3 linked regions of the Homo sapiens genome follow. The protein of the gene in region 1 purifies or fractionates together with the protein of each later gene. This does not show direct contact. Each region holds a gene or a part of one and is shown in the gene's direction. Other genes may lie near its edges.

The links. Proteins that work in one complex are often made in the same cells at the same time.
Region 2: the proteins of PARVA (region 1) and DDX47 purify together in Homo sapiens (affinity purification with mass spectrometry; 2 studies listed by BioGRID and IntAct, with this or other methods). This does not show direct contact.
Region 3: the proteins of PARVA (region 1) and IQGAP1 purify together in Homo sapiens (affinity purification with mass spectrometry; 3 studies listed by BioGRID and IntAct, with this or other methods). This does not show direct contact.

What each region holds. Positions count from the first base shown.
Region 1 is NC_000011.10:12,513,548-12,520,573, forward strand, and holds part of PARVA (alpha-parvin), read left to right. Parts: intron 1-449; coding exon 450-518; intron 519-4,062; coding exon 4,063-4,164; intron 4,165-4,897; coding exon 4,898-4,970; intron 4,971-7,026. UniProt on the Homo sapiens protein: Plays a role in sarcomere organization and in smooth muscle cell contraction. Required for normal development of the embryonic cardiovascular system, and for normal septation of the heart outflow tract.
Region 2 is NC_000012.12:12,823,321-12,830,346, forward strand, and holds the end of DDX47 (probable ATP-dependent RNA helicase DDX47), read left to right. Parts: intron 1-549; coding exon 550-696; intron 697-1,219; coding exon 1,220-1,357; intron 1,358-2,679; coding exon 2,680-2,750; intron 2,751-3,925; coding exon 3,926-4,055; intron 4,056-6,102; coding exon 6,103-6,234; 3' UTR 6,235-6,661; downstream 6,662-7,026. UniProt on the Homo sapiens protein: Required for efficient ribosome biogenesis. May have a role in mRNA splicing. Involved in apoptosis.
Region 3 is NC_000015.10:90,391,217-90,398,242, forward strand, and holds part of IQGAP1 (ras GTPase-activating-like protein IQGAP1), read left to right. Parts: intron 1-7,026. UniProt on the Homo sapiens protein: Plays a crucial role in regulating the dynamics and assembly of the actin cytoskeleton.

The sequences.
Region 1 (7,026 bases):
TTTTCCCCTCCATCAGCATGAACAGCCTGTCTTCCCACCCAGGCTAACCCCAGCAATCTCAGCCTTCCCCACTCCTCACAGAATTCCCTGTCTCCCTGGCCTAGGCACCTGTGCCGAAGAAGGGACAGGAAGGAGAGATCCAGTGGAATCATTTTATTTCAGTTCCCCCACCCAGACACTGGCTCAGACACTCCACCTATCATTCTGCCTCTTGGGACCTCCTTGTTCCTTACACGCCCTGAGTTGTATGGGACTGCAAAGTCGAGCCTGTGGCCCTCCCTGTGCACTCAATGGCCTTTGCAGAGAGAGCTCCTGGGCCCAGGGCTCTTGGCTGGGCCTGATCCTCTGCTTTCACCCTCACCCTTGCCCTCACGGGAGTCACGGAGCAGCCACAGGCTCCTGCACTAGTGCGAGTCCCCAGCTTAGGGCCTGCTTTGCTTCTCTTTTAGACACTCATCACTTTCGTGAACAAGCACCTGAATAAACTGAACCTGGAGGTCACAGAACTGGAAACCCAGGTGGGTGACAGACCCCAGCACAGGTAGAGGCAGGGCCCTGCCCTACAGCCCCTGTTCCAAGTGGCCCACCACACTTGGCCAGGAGGGCTTTCCCAGCTGAGGGGGATGAGGGCATGGGAATCTGTCCTACTCTGAGGGGTGGACTGAGTCTCTGTGGATTTTTTCCAACTTTTTATTATGAAAATTACAAGAATGAATACTCATATACCCTTCACTGGGATGCACCGATTGTTAATATTTGGCCACACCTCTCTCTCTTTCTCTGCACCCCTAAATGCTTGAGCATATGTCTCTCAAGAACAAGCACATTCTCTTAGGTAACCACAACACAATTATCAAAGGCAGGCAGTTTTAACATAATACATTAATCTGTTTAGATTGAATCATATGAAATTGCTGACATTCGACTGTTTTTGTTTTCTGTTTTGTTTTGTTTTTTGAGATAGAGTTTCACTCTTGTTGCCCAGGCTGGAGTGCAGTGGCAAGATCTCGGCTCACTGCAACCTCTGCCTCCCAGGTTCAAGCGATTCTCCTGCCTCAGCCTGCCAGGTAGCTGGGATTACAGGCATGCGCCACCAAGCCCGGCTAATTTTTTGTATTTAGTAGAGACGGGGTTTCACCATGTTGGTCAGGCTGGTCTCAAACTCAGACCTCAGGTGATCCACCCACCTTGGCCTCCCAAAGTGCTGGGACTATAGGCATGAGCCACCGCACCCAGCTGACTGTTCTTAACCTACTAAAATGGCAACATCATGTGGTTAGAAAAAACACTCTGTTCAGATTTTGCCAGTTGTCCAGTTTGCTCACATGCTGCATTTACTTGTCATGTCTCTTTAGTCTCTTTTTAACGTAGAACAACTCCTCGGCCTTTCTTGTTGTGGCACTGACACTTTTTGAAGTGTTCAGGCCAGTTGGTTTATAGACTGTCTTTTCTGCACATATTAGATTCAGGTCATGCATTTTCATTAACAGCACGTCCCAAGTAAGGCTGTGTTCTTCCCGGGGCATCCCAGGAGGAGGCACTCTGTCCATTAGTCCCACTGCTAGTGATAACTTGGATTATTTGGTTAGGATGGTGTTCACCGGATTTCCCTATTATAAAGTTATTTTTCCTCTCTTTATACTTAACTAATCTTTATTGGGGAGATATTTTGAGCCTGATGAATCCTGTTTCCCCACCTCCTTTCATTCTTGGTGAGCTTCTGCCTTATACTTCTCTTTCAGTCATCTGGGTACCTCCTTTTATTTTAAAGACAAATGCCAGCCTGTCGCTGAGCTCCACCTGAGTGTGTCTAGACTGTGTGAAATGAGCTTCATGTACTCTTGTAGGAAATAAGGAATGTTCTGGAAAAGTGACGCTTCCTTGAGTGAGCTAGAATGGGCCCTGGAATGATCAGCTCCGTTTTCAAGGGCAGGGAGTGCTATGACAGGGGTCACTGCCAAGCACTTTGGGTCTCTACAGTTTTATCTACTATTCCTACCAAGTCAGTGGAACCAGCCATGGGAGGTGAGGAGCAGTCTAAGCCTGGCACTCAGAGCTGTGAATGACCCCAACCCTAACCCAAGGTCACCCCTGAGCTCACAGATTGGATTCTTTTACTCCTAACTCCTTCTCACCACAGCTTGAATGAAGCCCAGTTGCTCAGCTCCCACCAGAAGGGCCTTGATTTTGACAGACTCTGGGGTCTGCTCTCCCGTGTCCACCTAGGGTGAGTCATGCTCAGGCCGTTCCCACCTGAGTTGCAGGCCTGATGGATAGAAGCTGGGAGGAGCTACCCTTTTGTTTTTGAGACAGGGTCTTACTCCTGTCATGCAGGCTAGAGTGCAGTGGCACGATCACGGCTTACTGCATCCTCAACTTCCCAGGCTCAGGTGATCCTCCCACCCCAGTCTCCTGAGCAGCTGGGACTACAGGCATGCACCAACATACCCGGTTAATTTTTTTGTATTTTTAGTACAGACAGGGTTTCACCATGTTGCCCAGGCCAGTCTGGAACTCCTGAGCTCAAGCGATCCGCCTGCCTCAGCCTCCCAAAGTGCTGCGATTACAGGCATGAGCCACCGCACTCGGCCAGAAGCTGCCTTTAAGGCAAGCGCAAGCTCAGGGTCTTGTGCCCTTAATGACGGCTGAGCCGCAGGCCGGCTAGCTGGCTACCTGGAAAGCTCTCTGAGCAGACTCTGGGCTCCTAAGGTGATTCCAAGAAATGTGGCCTTCTCTAAACCCCAGCAGCTATATACACTCATAAACATTTGGTGGCCCAGCCTCCTTTGAAAGGGTTCTAGAATGTCGGATGTGCATCTGACCTCTATGTCTTTGCTAGGCCATCCCCCCTACCTGGAACCCCCTACTCCTCCCAAGGTCCATCATCCCCGGCCTCCACAAGCCTGTCCTGAGCCCTCAGTGTATGCTCACTTCACCCAGCCCTAAGCAGAAGACCAGCAGCCTCCGCACTTAGCTGAGGGACTCTCCTGTCCCTTGGGCCTGGTTTCCCAACCCATCTGGCCTCTTCTGCCTAGGAAGGGACCGGGCTGCAAGCCTCCTGCCAGGGCCCTCAGCACATAGTTCTGCTTTTGCCAGCAAGAGCAAGTAAGTCATGTCCTGATTGCTTTGTTGTTTTCCCAGACAGTAATAGCAACATTTAATATTTATTCAATGCTACATGCCTAGCAGTTTACAGGCCCTCTCTGCATATTTAACTGGCTTAGTCCTCACGATAACTCTGTGACATAGATACTATTCTATTACCATCCCTGTTTTACAGATAAGACATATGAGTACAGAGAAGTGACATAACTTGCCCAAGGCATATAGCTAGTAGGTGAGAGAGCTGGAATTTGCACCTGGGAGGCCTGGCCCCAGAGCCCACATTCATAACAGCTGCACTCTGCTGCTGTAATACTGAAGAGAGATGGGAGAAAGAATGCCCAGCCCTGTGTGACACTAGTCCTTTCTCTGTTCAGAAAGCACAGATCTCCCCAGGAACCTCATGCCATTCACCTTGGACATCACCTCCCCCTCCTCCCTCTGTCCCACTCTAGCCAATCCTGCTCATCCTCAGCTCTCCACTCAGGCTCTGTCCCCTCCAGAAGACTCCTCTGATGCCTTCAGTGCTTGTGGGCGACCTTTCTCAACCTCACTCAGGCCAGCGAGCTTCCTTCCATCAGAGCAGCTGTGCCTTGCCCCCACACCAGTTTCCCTATTAGACTGTGTACTCCTCCAGGGCAGGAGCCACACTGACCACCCCCCACCCCCCACCCCCCACCATGCTCTGGTCCCCATGCCTAGACCAGGAGTTGGTACACAGCCTCTGTTCAGTAAATGCTGGGTCAGCTGAGATCAGGGCCTGGGCTTGTGGCTCCTGTGCCAGCCAGACGTGGGGCAGAGCAGACCTCCTTGTCTCGGGCCACTGCCCCTACCCCCGAGCTAGCAGCCTGGCTGGGGTGGTAGGCTTCAGGTGGCATAGCACAGAAGTTGATGGGCCCCCTGGATGGGGATTGGCTGGGAGGCTCAGGGGCCAGTGCCATCACCTGGCTCTTCCTCCAGTTTGCAGATGGGGTGTACCTGGTGCTGCTCATGGGGCTCCTGGAGGGCTACTTTGTGCCCCTGCACAGCTTCTTCCTGACCCCGGACAGCTTTGAACAGAAGGTAAGGAGAAGGGACATCAAGGGAGGCCCCCTAGCCCACATCCCCTGACTCATGTGCCCACACCCATGCTGGGGCTATCCAGAAAAAAGGCAGAAGCTTCCCCTCTGCTCAACGTCTTCAGTGCCTGGAGGTGGGACCCATTATAAGAGCTGAGCTGGGAAGGAGCTACCTGCAGACCACTGGGCATCCCTGACTGCCTTTCCCTTGCCCTGAAGCCTGGCCCGGGTCCCCTGCCCTGTGTCCCTGTCAAGTGCCCCAGCCCAGCCTCCTCTCTCCCCAGAGATGACAAGGAAAGTGACTGTGAAGCTGGTCAGCCCTGAGGCTCATGCTTAGCCTGGTTCTGATGGCCTCTCGTAGGCTGCCACATCCTGCTCGCTACACAAAGGCATTTGACCAGAAAGCCTGCTCTGCCTGTTGAACATGTCCTGCCATCTGATTCTTCCAGACGTGTGCACTGACACCCCCAATTTGAAGTCCTGGCAGTTTACACAGGAACACAGTAGGATATGAAGGGAGTTTTGTGCTTCTCCAGGAGTGCTTCTCCCAACAGCAAGCTAGGATCAGCTAGCTCACGCTCCAGGTGGCCTGCCCATTTTGGTAGCCATATTTCTCCTTGAAATTAGTTCAGCCTCTGTCCCTCTGGCTACAGTGCTGGGCTCCTTCACTTCCCAGGGCCAGGTCCTGGGGCTCCTGGGTGTGCAATGGTACATGCTGTCTGCATCTCTCTTGCCAGGTCTTGAATGTCTCCTTTGCCTTTGAGCTCATGCAAGATGGAGGGTTGGAAAAGCCAAAACCGCGGCCAGAAGGTACTTTGCTCTTTCCTGGGTTTGTGACAACAGAGTGAGACCCTCTCCCTGCACATGAGTACTCAGATTTTGTAGCAGAGGGAAGCATTTTCTGAAGCCTTCGTTGCTGGGGAAGGTGGGACTCGGTGCAGCTGCTCAGTCCCAGAGACCCTTTGTGAGCTGCCAGCTGCACAGCCAGGGGAAGAAAAGAATCTGAAATCCCACACATGCCATGCGTGGGATCGCGGGGATCAGGGACCGAGCAGAACTGCTGCTGCAGGAACTGCCCTGTGCCCAATTTCCAGGTTTTCCTGTCCCTGCACAGGGTGCTGACCTGCCAAAGAGCTGTGTCCCCGCCAGTCGGGGTGAAGGTGCAGCGCAGACAGTTCTGGGCTGAGCAAAACTGCTTCTCTCCTTACAGATGCGGAGCTCTGCCTGCTCAGACTCTGTCTGAGGACAGGCCATGATTTGTGGGGTTTGGGTTGTAAATATAAGTCTGAGGGGAAATGCAGAAGGGACAAGTGCTTCTGCAGCCCCTGCATACTCCTGCTAGGAGTGCACACGTGCATTCGTGAGCAGAGGAGGCACGCTTCTCTTAGTAGTCTTGGTACGGATGATTGCTTTCTGCCCCTTACTGACTGAAGTATTCCATTTCACCAGAGCTGGCAGGTCACCACTGTGTTGCAGATAATCTCCTGCATATGTCCCCTGGGAACACTGAGAATGCCATCTGTGGCCCTTTTGCTCGCACTTTTCTGGTAGTTTATAGGCAAGTGGATGAGTAGGAATGGTGGGCTCTCATGCCCCCTTCCTGCCTCTGCTCTGAGCTCCTCTATCCAAACCCCCACCTAGTGGGGGCCATGCCCTGGTCTAGTGGGCTTGAGACCCTGTAGACCATGATATAACAAGAGGGGTAAGACCTTCCTGAACCTCAAGGCACGTGTAGCCAACCAGGGAAGAGAAAAGTTGGAGCCAGTTAGCAAAATGAAATGACAGTCATGGGAACTGTTACGAAAGAGGTACAAGGAAGAGTCTGTGAGGACTGAGGAGGTGATACCACTTCTGTCTTGGGGGAGGAACAGTTTGATGGAGACAGTGGGGCTCAACCATAAGGACCAGGTAGGGCTTTGGTGTATGGAGACTGGGAGAGAAGTGTGTGCATGCCAGACAGAATGACAGCATGAGCAAAAGTCCCCCCGGGGAAGAATGGGGACCCTGTCTCATGACTCCTTCCAGACTCGTTATCTATTGACTCTAGCCAACAAAGGTCAACTCCTGTTCTCATTTATTACCACCTTGTCCTAAGCCCCTGGTCAACTGAGACCTGGGGGAGGACCTCTAGCAAGGCTGGTGTCCCCCTGGGGCTCTCTCTTTGGCAAGGCCACTCCAGCCTTCCTAATGCCATTAGGAATGGACTCTTCTTGTTCTGTGGGCAGATGATGAGCACCCTGCTTCTGGGAGGACAGACACAGTGAGAAAGTTCCGACCATCATTTTGCTTCCACTTTCTTCAACCACTTAATATGAAACTTCCTGGTTACAGATTGGAAGTACTTCTGCTATTTTAGAATTGGGATATTTCTTTCCCTTGGGACAGATAATTTTCCCAATATAAATCAATCTATGGGAATATTTTGGAATATAGGTGATATTTTTATGCAATTATTAAGTTGCTGAATGTGAAACTAACAGACTGATGTGGATGGAAAAACACGTGTTTTATTTGTTATGACACAGGGCATTATGCCCATGCTGCAAATTTCCAGTACGTAAAGGGGAATGGAAATAGCATTTTATGAAATTGTACTTTGAAAGAAGTGAATCCCAGCATTCCGTCTGGTTTTTATGCTTCTACCTGGAAAGTGAGATTTGGAAGTAAATGATGCAGACATTTCAAAGGGTGCCAATGTGGGTAATTCTTTGAGGGCATTTCAAAATCAAACTGGTTGTGGTGGAGGCATTTTTCATGGCAACATGTTTTTAAGGTCAGGAAAATGCATTCTCTGCTGTGCTGTTTAACACTCAAAGCTCTGTTGTGCCTTGAAATCCCCTAGAAACTGGGTTTGTATCTGAGATGA
Region 2 (7,026 bases), on another chromosome or scaffold:
TAAAATGTTTACTTTGATCATTCCTGCCTCTCCCTCTTCTTTTCACCAAAGCATCTGAAAATGTGTCAACTCTTGATTAGGTAAGAGCTGTAATGCAGATTGGCATCCTGTCTGTTTGCTTTAGAGTGCATATCGTGCTTATATTATCACCGATAAGCCAGACATGCCAGGAATTCACAACACATTAAATCACAATACTGAGGTCATGATGTAATCATATAATTCCTTCCCATCCCCATCCTTGAGGTAATTTTTCCTTTGTCTGCTTATTATGTGGCTTTTATTTAGGATGAAGCCCCTGGTTTTGTGCTTTGATATAAGGACTTCTCCTGTTTGCTGAGTACAGATCTCCTGCCTGCCTTAAGGCTAAGTGGGGAATATGTGGTTCACAGAGATGATAATGCTGGTTAAGGAATGCAAAGCTGGCAGCTGGAGGTCTGGATAATTGAAAAGCGACTATAGGCTTAGTCTTTACCTTATGTATATGCCAGGTCTCCAATCCTGTCTCCCAGGTTCAATGACATATATTGTTTTGGGTTTGTAACTTAGGATACCTACCTGGTTTATATTCTAAATGAATTGGCTGGAAACTCCTTTATGATATTCTGCAGCACCTGTAATAATACCCAGAGAACAGCTTTGCTACTGCGAAATCTTGGCTTCACTGCCATCCCCCTCCATGGACAAATGAGTCAGGTAAGGATTCATCATCATCATCAGCCATGCACTGGTGGCGTGAGCGAGATAAACCTCCTAACAGTAGGTTTGTACAATAAGGCCATAGGGCACCGATGCCTGTTTCCATAATTGTTGTAATTTTATGGGCTTTGAAGTGTTGCTCTAGATACTTACTTTCTCCTTTCAGGGTAGCGAGAGGCTCCCATTAGAATATTTCATATGTACCTGTCTGGTTTGCAAGCTGTTGAGTTGATTTATTCAGCCCTAGTGGTAATAATGACTCTGGCCTCTAAAAACATTAATAAATTATTTCCCAGTTACCTTTCTATCGTGTCAAACTACCCTTATTTTGTATCATATATATTTTTTTAATTTTTTGTTGCTTCCATATTTCTGTTTTGACCTGTGAAGCCCCATTCAAAACTTAGGGGGAAAAACCTTTAAAAAATTTATGTCTGTTTGTTCTCGTGTTTGTCTATTTTGTGTTTTGTATTCCAAAACATAGGTTAAGTTTTCCAACATTTCTTTTTCATTACCTCAGAGTAAGCGCCTAGGATCCCTTAATAAGTTTAAGGCCAAGGCCCGTTCCATTCTTCTAGCAACTGACGTTGCCAGCCGAGGTTTGGACATACCTCATGTAGATGTGGTTGTCAACTTTGACATTCCTACCCATTCCAAGGTGAGTCCTATTGCTAACTTACCTTTCTAGTCCTAAAGTGTATTTCTTAATGGACTGTCTTCTGTCTTTCCTTAGTTACAGCAGTTATTTTGTTCCTGGTTAATTAAGTATCAAAAAACAAGAAAGCCCTTGGTTAGTTCATTCACATCATCTTGCACAGGCCTGTGTATGTAACATTAGTACATATGAAAGAGGTAGCCAAGGAGAGTTATTAGATGCTCATAGAAGGGGCTGGTGCGCCACATACTGATCTTGTCACTGTCATTTCTTGAGAATGACAGCTTGTAGTTTTTTTGAGGCGGAGTCTCGCTCTGAGTTTTCTGAGGTGGAGTCTGCACCCAGTCTGGAGTGCAGTGGCGCAATCTTGGCTCACTGCATGCTCTGCCTCCTGGGTTCACGCCATTCTCCTGCCTCAGCCTCCCGAGTAGCTGGGACTACAGGCGCCCACCACCACGCCCGGCTAGTATTTTTAGTAGAGATGGGGTTTCACCGTGTTAGTCAGGACGGTCTTGATCTCCTGACCTCGTGATCTGCCCACCTCGGCCTCCCAAAGTGCTGGGATTACAGGCGTGAGCCACCGTGCCCGGCCTACAGCTTGTAGTGCTTAGTGTATCTCAAGGTTTCTCAGCCTTGGCACTATTAACATTTTAAGCTTTCGAATTCCTTGTTGTGGGGGTTGTTCTTTGAGTTGAAGGATTCCTAGTAGCATTCCTGGCCTTTACCCAGTAGATAACAGCATCACACAGTCTTCCACCTGTGATAATCAGAAATATTTCCAGACATTACCAGTGTCCCTTGAGGATGGCAGAATCACCCCTGGATGAGAACTGTTGTGTCTCTTGTCTTTGTATTTAACTGCTGTAGACAAGATGCTGTCTCATTTGATTTTCATAACAACTCTGTAATATGGGCATGTATTTCTATTCCTGTTCACTAGATAGAAACCAAGGTTCAGAGAGGTTATGTGATTTGCAGGTAATTGTGTAACTGGCAGATGGGAAGGATCAGAGCTGTAATCCAGCTCTGCCTCGAGATCCAGTGCTGTTTTTTAAAATACCATGCAGCCTGCGACCATGTAGATATGCTTTGTAGATTTATCTGTCTGTGAAAGAAGGGAAAGCATTGGATCAATTTTGTGCTGCAAGGAGAACAAAAAAGATGAAGTAGATTTGTCTCAACAAATTGCCCCGGCCATTTATTTTCTCCATGTTACGAAATGAATCTATTTTCTTTCAAAGGTTTTGCAGCAGGACTTTGCATATGTAGTTTTTTTTAAACTTATAATCCATATAACTTGAATTTATTTACCCTTTTTGTTTTAGGATTACATCCATCGAGTAGGTCGAACAGCTAGAGCTGGGCGCTCCGGAAAGGCTATTACTTTTGTCACACAGTAAGTAAATCAGCTTTAGGGCCGAGCAATGTAGAGAAAAGAGCAGAACTTTCAAGCCACTGGCTGAGAACCTGACACTACCATTTACTACACTAATCACTTTCATACTGAAAACCAGGATGAAGGAGTTGAAAGATGGGAATAATAATACCTATCTAGCAGGGTTTTGGTGAAAATTGGAGATTATATATGTAAAAGATCTAGTATAGTATTTGGCATGTAGAATGGTACCTAGAGCTGGAGAGCAATTGCCTTTGTGTCAACTCAGAAAGTATTAGAATAACTATTTCCAATTGTTTTTTTTAAAGAAACAAATTTTTATGTACCCAAGGCTGTTCTGTGAATAAATACCTTGAGGGATTTTCTCCCTCCCTCCTTTCCTTTTTTTTTTTGTATTTGTCTCGCTCTGTCGCCTAGGCTGGAGTGCAGTGGTGCAGTCTTGGCTAAGTGCACCTTCCACCCCCTGGGCTCAAGCAATCCTCCTACCTCACCATAGCTTCCCAAGTAGCTGGGACCACAGGTGCATGCCAGCACACCTGGCTTTTTAAAAAATATTTTTAGTAGAGATAGGGTTTTGTCATGTTGGCCAGGCTGGTCTTGAACTCCTGAGCTCAAGCGATCCACCTGCCTTAGCCTCTCATAGTGCTGGGATTACAGGCACAAGCCACCTGCCTGGCCGATTTTTGTTTCTTTTTCTTTTTTTAAGCAGCAAGGTTTCACTCTGTTGACCAGGCTGGAGTGCAGTGACTTGATCATAGCTCACTGCAGCTTCAAACTCCTGGGCTCAAGTAGTCCTCATACCTCAGTCTCCTGAATGGCTGGGATTACAGGCACATGCCACCACGGTTGGCTAATTTTTAATTTTTTATAGAGATGGCATCTCACTGTGTTGTCCAGGCTGGTCTGGAACTCCTGGTCTCAAGTGATTCTCCTGCTTTGACCTCCCAAAGCGTTGGGATTACAGGTGCAAGCCACCATGCCTGGCCTCCCTTGAGTGATTTTCTAATGGGCTATGCACAGAGATTGCACTTAACCCATATTTAGAAAAGAAATAATATGTTCAATATTGTTTAAACCTATGGTTCCTATTGCGTTGTATCATATAATAATAGTTTGGGAATGGACAGGCATTTGCGTTACCAGGCAACCAGAGCTGTGCAGTTTTCCTTCCTCAGGTATGATGTGGAACTCTTCCAGCGCATAGAACACTTAATTGGGAAGAAACTACCAGGTTTTCCAACACAGGATGATGAGGTTATGATGCTGACAGAACGCGTCGCTGAAGCCCAAAGGTTTGCCCGAATGGTATGCATCTTTCTTTTCTCACCAGTGTCTGTGCAAACAATGTTAACTGTGTGCCACTTTATTATATTAACCCTCATACTAAACTGCAGAAGCTGGGTATTATTTTATTCCAAATTTAAGACGAGCAAACTAAGGTGCAGAGATGGTAGGTAATTTGCATTAGACCATACAACCAAATGGTTGAATCAAGGTTTGGCCTCATTCTGACATTCACACATTCACAGCACCTGTTCATGTGTCGCACGTGGTGAGATAGTTCATCAGACTTGAGGTCAGAAGATCCAGCTGTGAACTGTGTGAGCTTGGGAAATTTGCCTGATTTCTCAGAATCAGAATCAGTTTCTCACCTGTAAATTGGGAATAACACTTGCCTGAATACCTTATGGGGTTTTATGAGCACCAGAGAAGCCAATATAAACTACATAGTTACTAGTAGGGGTTGATCATACCTAATCCAAAAATTTGAAATCCAAAACCAAGATCCAAAACTTTTCTTTTTTCTTTTTTTTTTTTTTTTTGAGATGGAGTTTTGCTCTTGTTGCCCAGGCTGGAGCGAATGGTGCAATCTCGGCTCACCACAACCTCCGCCTCCCGGGTTCAAGCGATTCTCCTGCCTCAGCCTCCCGATTACAGGCATGTGCCACCATGCCCAGCTAATTTTGTATTTTTAGTAGAGATGGGGTTTCTCCATTTTGGTCAGGCGAACTTCTGACCTCAGGTAATCCCCCCGCCTCGGCCTCCCAAAGTGCTGGGATTACAGGCTTGAGCCATTGTGCCCAGCAATCCAAAATTTTTTGAGTGCGAAAAGGATTGCCGCAAGTGGAAAATTCCATGCCTGACCTCGTGTGACAGGTTGCTATCAAGACACAGTCAAAATGTTTTTAATGCACAAAAATATTAAAAATATGATGTAAAATTACCTTCAGACAATTAAAAATATTGTGTAAAATTACCTTCATATATAAGGTATATATGAAACAAGTGAATTTTGTGTTTAGAGTTGAGCCCCATCCCCAAGATAGCTCATATGTATCTGCAAATATTCTAGAATTAGAAAAAATCTGAAGTCCGAAACACTGCTGGTCCCAAGCATTTCAGATAAGGGATACTCACCCTGTAAGTAGTAGTAACAGTAATAGTGGTGATGAGAAGATTCTAGAGGAAAACCATTGGAAGTGCTGCCTGCTTTCTGGAGTTCTGGTCTGAGGGATGGAGAAACTTTGCCCATAGTTTGTTTTTGGAGTAGCTGAGGTGCACATTTGGTTTTTATTCTGTCCACATGGGATTTTTTTGTTTGTAAAAGTATTACATGTGCATTGGGAAAAAAATTCAAAAAATACAGAAAGGATTAAAGTAGTAAGTGAAAAGGTAAACCATTCCCCACAGAAAACCATTGATAACATTTGGCTATTTTTCTTTCTTTAGCCATAATTAGACTTTATCTAATTATATAGGATTAACATTTTTCTGTTTCAACAAATACAGATTCATGTGATCGTTTCTTAATGGCTACAAAGAATTCCATCATGTGTATGAAATACTTACATTCATGGATGCTTACGCTTTTTTCCAGTTTCTTTCTACTTTGGTACAGTGTTAAACACCCTACTTTGTACAGCTTTGCATATTTACTTCCTTAGAATAAATTCCTAGAAGTACACTTGTTGGGCCAAGGGACATACACAGTTAAAATTTGAATTCATACAGAATGCCAAATTGTCCCCCGCCCCAAGAAAAGCTATAGCAGATTGCACTATAAATGAGAGTATATGTGAATTTTTCTACACCTTGGCCAATACTGGGGATTACCCTTCTCTTAAGTCTTTGCCAATCTGCCATGTGAAAATAAAACCTTACTTTAGTGTTCACGTTTTGATTACTAATAAGGTTAACATCTTTGTATATTTGGAGTTGGGTCTTGTTCCTTTGCTAATGTCAGGCATCAGCAAGTTACTTGATACTTGATCTTAAGGAGAGGGGACTAGAATGAGTAACCTTCAGTGCCAGTAATTCATTTTCAATCCCATCCTCTCTTTTTTTCTTGCAGGAGTTAAGGGAGCATGGAGAAAAGAAGAAACGCTCGCGAGAGGATGCTGGAGATAATGATGACACAGAGGGTGCTATTGGTGTCAGGAACAAGGTGGCTGGAGGAAAAATGAAGAAGCGGAAAGGCCGTTAATCACTTTTATGAAGGCTCGAGTTCTGCTGTTCTGTAAAAGAGAATTGGAGAATGAAACCTGCTCCAACAGAGATCATGAGACTGAAATTGGTCAGAATTGTGTCCAGAATGTGCTCAGCTAATTCAGTATTCTTCCCCATTCTGGGTTGGAGTTTACTGCAGAGTAATTCTTACAGTGCTGATGTCAAGACTGTTACTGTTCTTCGACTTTGATTCCTTGCTCATGACATGAGTAGGGTGTGCTCTTCTGTCACTTCACACAGACCTTTTGCCTTTTTTAGCTGCAAGTCAAGGACTAGGTTGATGATGCCCATGACCTGTAATTGTAAAGAAGCTTGGACATCTGCAAATGATATTTAAACCATCTTGGCTTGTGCTTTATTCAAACTAATGTGAAACAATAAATTTAAATATTATTTTTAAAAGATTCTAACTCCTTAAAGACCTTGGTGTTAAAGGGCCTTATAGATTTAAGTAAGATCTTGTTAATAGGTAAGAACCTGACAGTGTTGATTACATGGCAAATTCATTGGTTGTCCTAATTAAGATAAATATTTATTACTTAAAAAAATCAACAAGGAAACGAGATGATGGATGGCTTTGAAAGGGAAGCCCCAGCCGGGTGTGGTGGCTCACGCCTGTAATCCCAGCACTTTGGGAGGCCAAGATGGGCAGATCAGGAGGTCAGGAGATTGAGACCATCCTTGGTAACACCGTGAAACCCTGTCTCTACTAAAAATACACACACAAAAAAAACATTAGCCTGGCGTGGTGGCGGGCGCCTGTAGTCCC
Region 3 (7,026 bases), on another chromosome or scaffold:
GACAAAACTCCTGTTTTTGGTGGGGGGAAAAAAAAGAAAAGATTTATTTGAGTATGTTATAGATGTAACTGGGAAGCTGGTGGTTGAGGGAATAAGTATAGGTAGGGTATTTATTTATGGCAATAAGTAGCCTTGATGAGAGTTTATCATGAATCACTGTGATGGGCATTTAAGTGTACTGAACGGTTTTCCAGGTTTCTATTGTTCAGTCTTATGCTTATTGTGCATGTTTTGGGCGTTACCAACTGTGGGGTGGAAATAGCATTTTTAGGATTTGAAGTTATTGGCTTTAATGTTTCACTTATGCTTCATGAATTTTGATTTATATATGAATTGAGTCTCCTCCTCCTATGACCTGCGGAGTGGCTGCTTGGTTTGGGAGGCTTAGAAGCGTGGTGCTGTTGGTGTAGGTCCATCTGTTTGGCAATATTCAGAGTCAGCATCCTCTGCATTCTTTGTGAAGTGAATGTAAAGCTGCTCTTTTCCTTTTTCAGATGCCCCACAACCTTGTGGTCTTAATTTTAGAGTGTCATTTTGTTATCAGTGATTCATTTCTTTTGTTCTGGTGCTTGTGTTCTTTTGCAGAGTCCCAGGGTAGATGTAATTATAGATCATGTATTCTATAAGTGAGCTTTGGTGGAAAAGTCAAGTGAGGGATAATGAAATATTTGTAATTAACGTTTAATAAAAAGGGTGTTTGAAGTGGTGCTAATAAACAAGTGTGTGTGTATGTGTGTATTTTAATTCTGAAAATCTTAAAATGCTACAAGAAAGTCCAGAGAACAGTACAACAAACATCATTGTATTCCAGAACTAACAAATGTTAACATTTGAGATATTTCCCTTTCCTCTAAAAACAAAACAAAACAAAACCAACATCGCTACATTTAAAGTCTTTTTTGTGCCCCTCTGGTCCCATTCTTCCTTCTCCTGGGGCAAACACTAACCTGTATTTTGCATGCCCTCTTGTGTCTAGGCTTCTTTTCTGAGCTTAAAACTTCCAGGAAACTGGAGCTTGGGTTTCAGTGATGACTTAAGTGAGGAGGATAACACTTGTCTTTCTAAATAATAGAAGATGACATAGCAAGGCATGCTATATCACTAGAAAAGGGGGCATTTTCTCATATGAAGTTTATAAGAAAACAAAAACTGTAAGATCTCTGCCATTTAAATTGTGGATTTCAAGGTTTGGAAGGTCAAAGAATTTGGAAGCTGCAGCTGTTCTGAGAGACCATCTTGTGCTCTGTGGAGCTTTGGTGATTCCACTGAGGTGACCTGGGGGTGAGAGGGAAGAGCTTCAACACACCTTCCTTCCCCCATCCAAAGTAGCTCTGCTTTTGTTTTACTGTTGAATTTCTTGAATAAAATTCACTTGTTACAGAGGGTGTTTTGGCTAACACCTCCCCTCCCCCAAACACTACCAATAACTAGTTCAACTGCTAATCTAGTTCAACCATCTCATTTAATGAAGAAACTGAAGCCTGAGTTTTTTGGTCTACTTGTAGTTTTCTTGATTGAAGAATGTTTCTATCTTTTTTTTTTTTTTTTTGTACAGTCTCGCTCTGTTGCCCAGGCTGGAGGGCAGTGGCGCAATCTTGGCTCATTGCAACCTCCACCTCCCGGGTTCAAGCGATTCTCCTGCCTCAGCCTCCTGAGTAGCTGGAATTACAGGCATCCGCCACTACGCCTGGCTAATTTTTGTATCTTTAGTAGAGACTGGGTTTCACCATAATGGCCAGGCTGGTCTCAAACTCCTGACCTCAGGTGATCCGCCCGTCTCAGCCTCCCAAAGTGCTGGAATTACAAACGTGAGCTGCTGTGCCTGGCCTCATCATTTTTTTAACTATGGTTGTTAACCAGGTGTGTGCATTAGAATCACCTGGGGAACTTAAAAAAAAAAAAAAATACACCTATCTGGGCCCTACCATAGAGATTGTGGTTCAGTAGGTCGGGGTGGGAGATCCAGACACATAGTAGTCCCTTGGTATCTGTGGGGGTTTGGTTCCAGGACACCTGCAGATATCAGAATCCACAGTTGCTCAACTTCCTTATATAAAATGGCATAGTATTTGCATATAACCTTAGCACATTGCATAATATATACTTGAAAACATCTCTAGATTACTTATCATACCTCTAGATTACTCTAGATATATCTCTAGATTACTTATCATACCTGATCCAATGTAAATGCTACATAAATAGTTGTTACACTGTATTGTTTTATTTATATCTTTCTTTATTTTTTTCTGACTGTTTTTGATCCATAGTTTGTTGAATCCATGGATGCAGAACCCATGGATAAGGAGGGCCGACTGTATTTTAAATGTCTCTAGTGATTCCGATGCTCCTTCCTTGGCCCCCACTCCTCCCCCTGTTGAGAAACAAGATTTAAAACTCTGCCTTATGCTGGGATATCATGACCTCAGTAGAATGTTACACTTCATCCTATTTCTTCATCAGGTTCTGCATTAGCCAGGCATTTTATTTTCAGCTACTCTAGAGCGTCTTTTTTTCTGTCAGGTGTTTTTTTCCAGTATAGGAAAGTAGCCCATTTCCTTTAAAGACCACCCAGCAGGCATGATCCCCTGAGGTGTTTTTTTGTTGAGTGCTTTTGCATACTTAAGGAGTAACTGACCTGGCCCGGTGGCTCACGCCTGTAATCCCAGCACTTTGGAAAGCTGAGGTGGGCGGATCACCTGGCGGTCGGGAGTTCGAGACCAGCCTGACCAACATGGAGAAACCCCCGTCTCTACTAAAAATACAAAATTAGTCGGGCGTGGTGGCGGGTGCCTGTAATCCCAGCTACTCGGGAGGCTGAGGCAGGAGAATTGCTTGAACCCGGGAGGCAGAGCTTGCGGTAAGCTGAGACAGTGCCATTGCACTCCAGCCTGGGCATCAAGAGTAAAACTCTGTCTCAAAAAAAAAAAAAAAAAAAAAAGGCAGTGGAGACATTTGTGATGATCTTCAGGTTTTTTTTTTTTTTTTTAAGGGAGGGCATAATAGTGGCATATTACCCTAGCACACCCTGCCCATTGGCCTGGCATCATGGAAAGGTGCCTGGTCTATTTTATGGAGGCAATCATAAAACTGGGTGTGGTGATTTTTGTTGTTGTTTAAGGCTTTGATTTTAAAAAATCAAGGTTGGAAGCACCTATTTAGATTGTAAACTAGAGAGGACAAAGGAAAGAAGCCTGGGAATGTTATGGTGAGAAAAGAGGACTAGAATCCCTGTCAGCCACCTATGTGGCTGCTGCCACCCCTAAAAAGTGTTGTGAGTGCACCAAGGACAAATGGCATGCTCTTCGTTATTAGTGAGCTATTAACCTCTTCCAGTTCTTTCTCCTACCTTGGTGAACCGGCCTGTATCTTGTGTGTTCCGAGGGCCCCTCTTTCCCCTCTAGCGCTAGACCCAGTTTGCCTTTTTGGTTTGGTTCCATCCTGTTTCCTCCATAACCTCCACCCCTCCCAAGTTGGAGGAGCCCCAATATCTGGGATTTACAGTAACTCTAAGGCCAGGAATAAAGATCATAGAGATTGGAGGGAGAAAAGCTTCCCCTCTTCAGTTCTATTTATAATACCTCTACTTCTACTAAAAGCTCCACCTTTTAGTACAGTGGCCCCATTGTGTATCCTAGGGCACTCCATTTTCTCCTCTGCCTGTAACAGAGCTCTTTCTTGGGAAAAGAGAGGAGTGTGTAGAGAGTGAATATGACTGTGTAGAGGCAGTGAGTATAAGTAAGAGAGTATAAGTGTAGAGAGACGAAAGTTTTCTGTGGCTGTGGGTTTGTGTTTCCCTGAAAGGTTAACTGGGAAAATTTAGGGGTAATTCCTATAAATGAGCACTGGGAGTGGTTGAGAAATAGAAAATGTAGAGATTTCTGCTTTTCTTCATTGTTTGGAGAGCAGCTTCAATATTGAAATTAAGCCGCTGTTCTAATGAGATATCACCTAACGATTCAAGGCTTTTTGCTAAGGGCTGCACAATAGATCAAGGATACATCTTAAATTATTATTTATGCTTAAATTGAAGCTTATTTTTATCCTTTTGCCTGTTCTTATTGAGTTTTACATTTGTTTAGGCTAAGGAGCGGGGTTTTTTTTGTTTTTTTGTTTTTTTTTGAAACGGAGTCTCGCTCTGTCGCCCGGGCCAGAGTGCAATGACGCTATCTCGGCTCACTGCAAGCTCCGCCTCCCAGGTTAACGCCATTCTCCTGGCTCAGCCTCCCGAGTAGCTGGGACTACAGGCGCCCACCACCACGCCTGGCTAATTTTTTGTATTTTTAGTAGAGACGGGGTTTCACCGTGTTAGCCAGGATAGTCTTGATCTCCTGACCTCGTGATCCGCCCGCCTTGGCCTCCCACAGTGCTGGGATTACAGGCGTGAGCCACTGCGCCCGGCCGGCTAAAGAGCAGTTGTATAGGAGCAATGAATACCGTTTCACTCAGTTGAAGGAGGTAACATTTAAATATGTGAGGTATGTTCAGTGCTTAGGTCTTGGACAGGAGGAAGTAACAGATCAGAATAAGGTTCAGGTGAAAAGAACCAAGAAGAGAACGTGTCAGGCAGGACAGAACAGGGAATTCTGCAAGTGAGAAGAAAGTACGATTAGTACTGGAAATGGAAGAAAATTCAGCTAGGTTAAAGGTCACAGGAAGAAAGTTAATTCCAGCATTCTCTGAGTTTCAGACAATTCCTGGTGTGCGCTTTCAAGTCTGTCATGGGCCACCTTTCTGCTGCTGAGTGCCCGTACCCTAGCTCAAGGAATAGGGCACACCCCTCTTGTAGAAGGGAAGGTAGGAACGCTGGCTGGTTGGAGACTGTCAGCAACTCCACGGTGATAAGTCGAGCTTAGCACTAAGTAGAAGTATGTCACTTTCTGTAATTTAGAGGAATTGAAAAGGTATCTTGGAAAGAAATTAGTTCTTGGGAACAAAGTCTTTTTTGTGCATATGTCTTTACTGTTGGCATAGAGCATTTTCTGGGATGGGCTCTTCAGATCTCCTCTCCCTGTAAGTGATTTCAGAATTCCATGAATGTTGGGATATGTCCAGGCTGGCACCCTGGGATCATGAAAATAGAAGTTAAGACATTTAAGAAGCAAGAAAACAAAATGGGTAGGTGAGGTGACTAGGAAGAATATCATGCCCAGCACTTCTAGAATTCTCAAAATGAGGAGCATCACTTAAATTTTGAGGGGGATCATTTTTAGGATGGTGACCCAAGCTCTCTTTGTACAGATGAGAAGTCTAGTTATCTCATGAGACCCAGTGTGACTAAAGGACCATAGCATGTAGCTGCGTAATGGCACGGTGGCACTAGGAGCTGATCCATTCATTTATTTATAATTACCAAGGGGAAGTATGGGGTGAGATTTATTCTTAACTCTTAAAATGGTGACATACACTATTTTAAGAATAAACCTCCATTCTTTTTTCGGATATTAATTTAGTGCAACGGCCTTGGACAGGCTCCACCATAAGAAGTGGGTTGCATTTAAAAGTGTATTTATTAAAAGTGGTTGAAGCTGAGTGCTTTTCTGTATTGTAACACTGTTGCAAATGGGGAGTATTCATTCCTAATGTGGCTGCCGAAAGCTTTTTACCCTACCATGTAGCTGAAAATTTAGCAAAAAAAATTTTTTTTTTTTTTGGAGACGGAGTCTCGCTCTGTTGCCCAGGCTGGAGTGCAGTGGTGCGATCTGGGCTCACCACAACCTCTGCCTCCCGGGTTCAAACGATTCTCCTTCCTCACCCTCCCGAGTAGCTGGGATTACAGGTGCCCACTGCCATGCCTGGCTAATTTTTGTATTTTTAGTAGAGATGGGGTTTGACCATGTTGGCCAGGCTGGTCTCCAACTCCTGACCTCAAGTGATCCACCCGCCTCGGCCCCCGCAAAGTGCTGGGATTATAGGCGTGAGCCACTGCACCCAGCCTAGCAAAATTTAAAATTAAGAAATGTAAAGAGTTGAACTAGTTAGTACCCATTATTATTAAGAAAAGTCATGTGGCTCTATATTCTCATAGTACGAATAATTAAGTAAAATAGAAATTCAAAAGTATGAATAAAATTTCTTTGAAAATCTTGAATGTTGAGATATCTTGCCACAGTGAAAAGAATCAGACTTTCTGTTTTGGCAGGTGTGAGTTCTGATTCTGGTTTTGCAAGTTGCTTAACGTCAGGGAGTGAGCCCAAATTTGTCCTTTGCAGAATGGGAACGCTATGCATCTTACAGAGCTGCTGTGATGGTTAATTGCTTGGCACAGTGAAATACAGTAGGCACTCAACAAACTTTTTTTTTTTTTTTTTTTTTTTTGAGACGGAGTCTTGCTCTGTCGCCCAGGCTGGAGTGCAGTGGTACAATCTTGGCTCACTGCAACCTCCGCCTCCCAGGTTCTCACCATTCTCCTGCCTCAGCCTCCCGAGTAGCTGGGACTACAGGCGCCTGCCACCACACCTGGCTAATTTTTTACATTTTTAGTAGAGATGGGGTTTCACTGTGTTAGCCAGGATGGTCTCGATCTCCTGACCTCGTGATCCACCTGCCTCGGCCTCCCAAAGTGCTGGGATTACAGGCGTGAGCCACCACGCCCGGCCTGAACTCAATAAACTTTTATCCAAGCACCTGGATAAAGGATATCCTGAATTTTTTCTTTTCTTTTTTTTTTTCTTTTTTTTTTTTGAGATGGAGTCTCACTCTTGTTGCCCAGGCTGGAGTGCAGTGGCACTATGTTGGCTCACTGTAACCTCTGCCTTCTGGGTTCAAGCGATTCTCCTGCCTCAGCCTCCCAAGTAGCTGGGATTACAGGTGCCTACCACCATACCCAGCTAATTTTTGTATTTTTTAGTGGAGACGGGGGTTTCACCATGTTGGCCAGGCTGGTCTCAAACTCCTGACCTCAGGTGATCCACCCGCCTTGGCCTCCTACAGTGCTGGGATTACAGACATGAGCCACTGTGCCCGGCCTCCTGAATTTTCACATTAAATCTGCAAAAGGAAAAGCAGATTTAATGTGAAGATGAC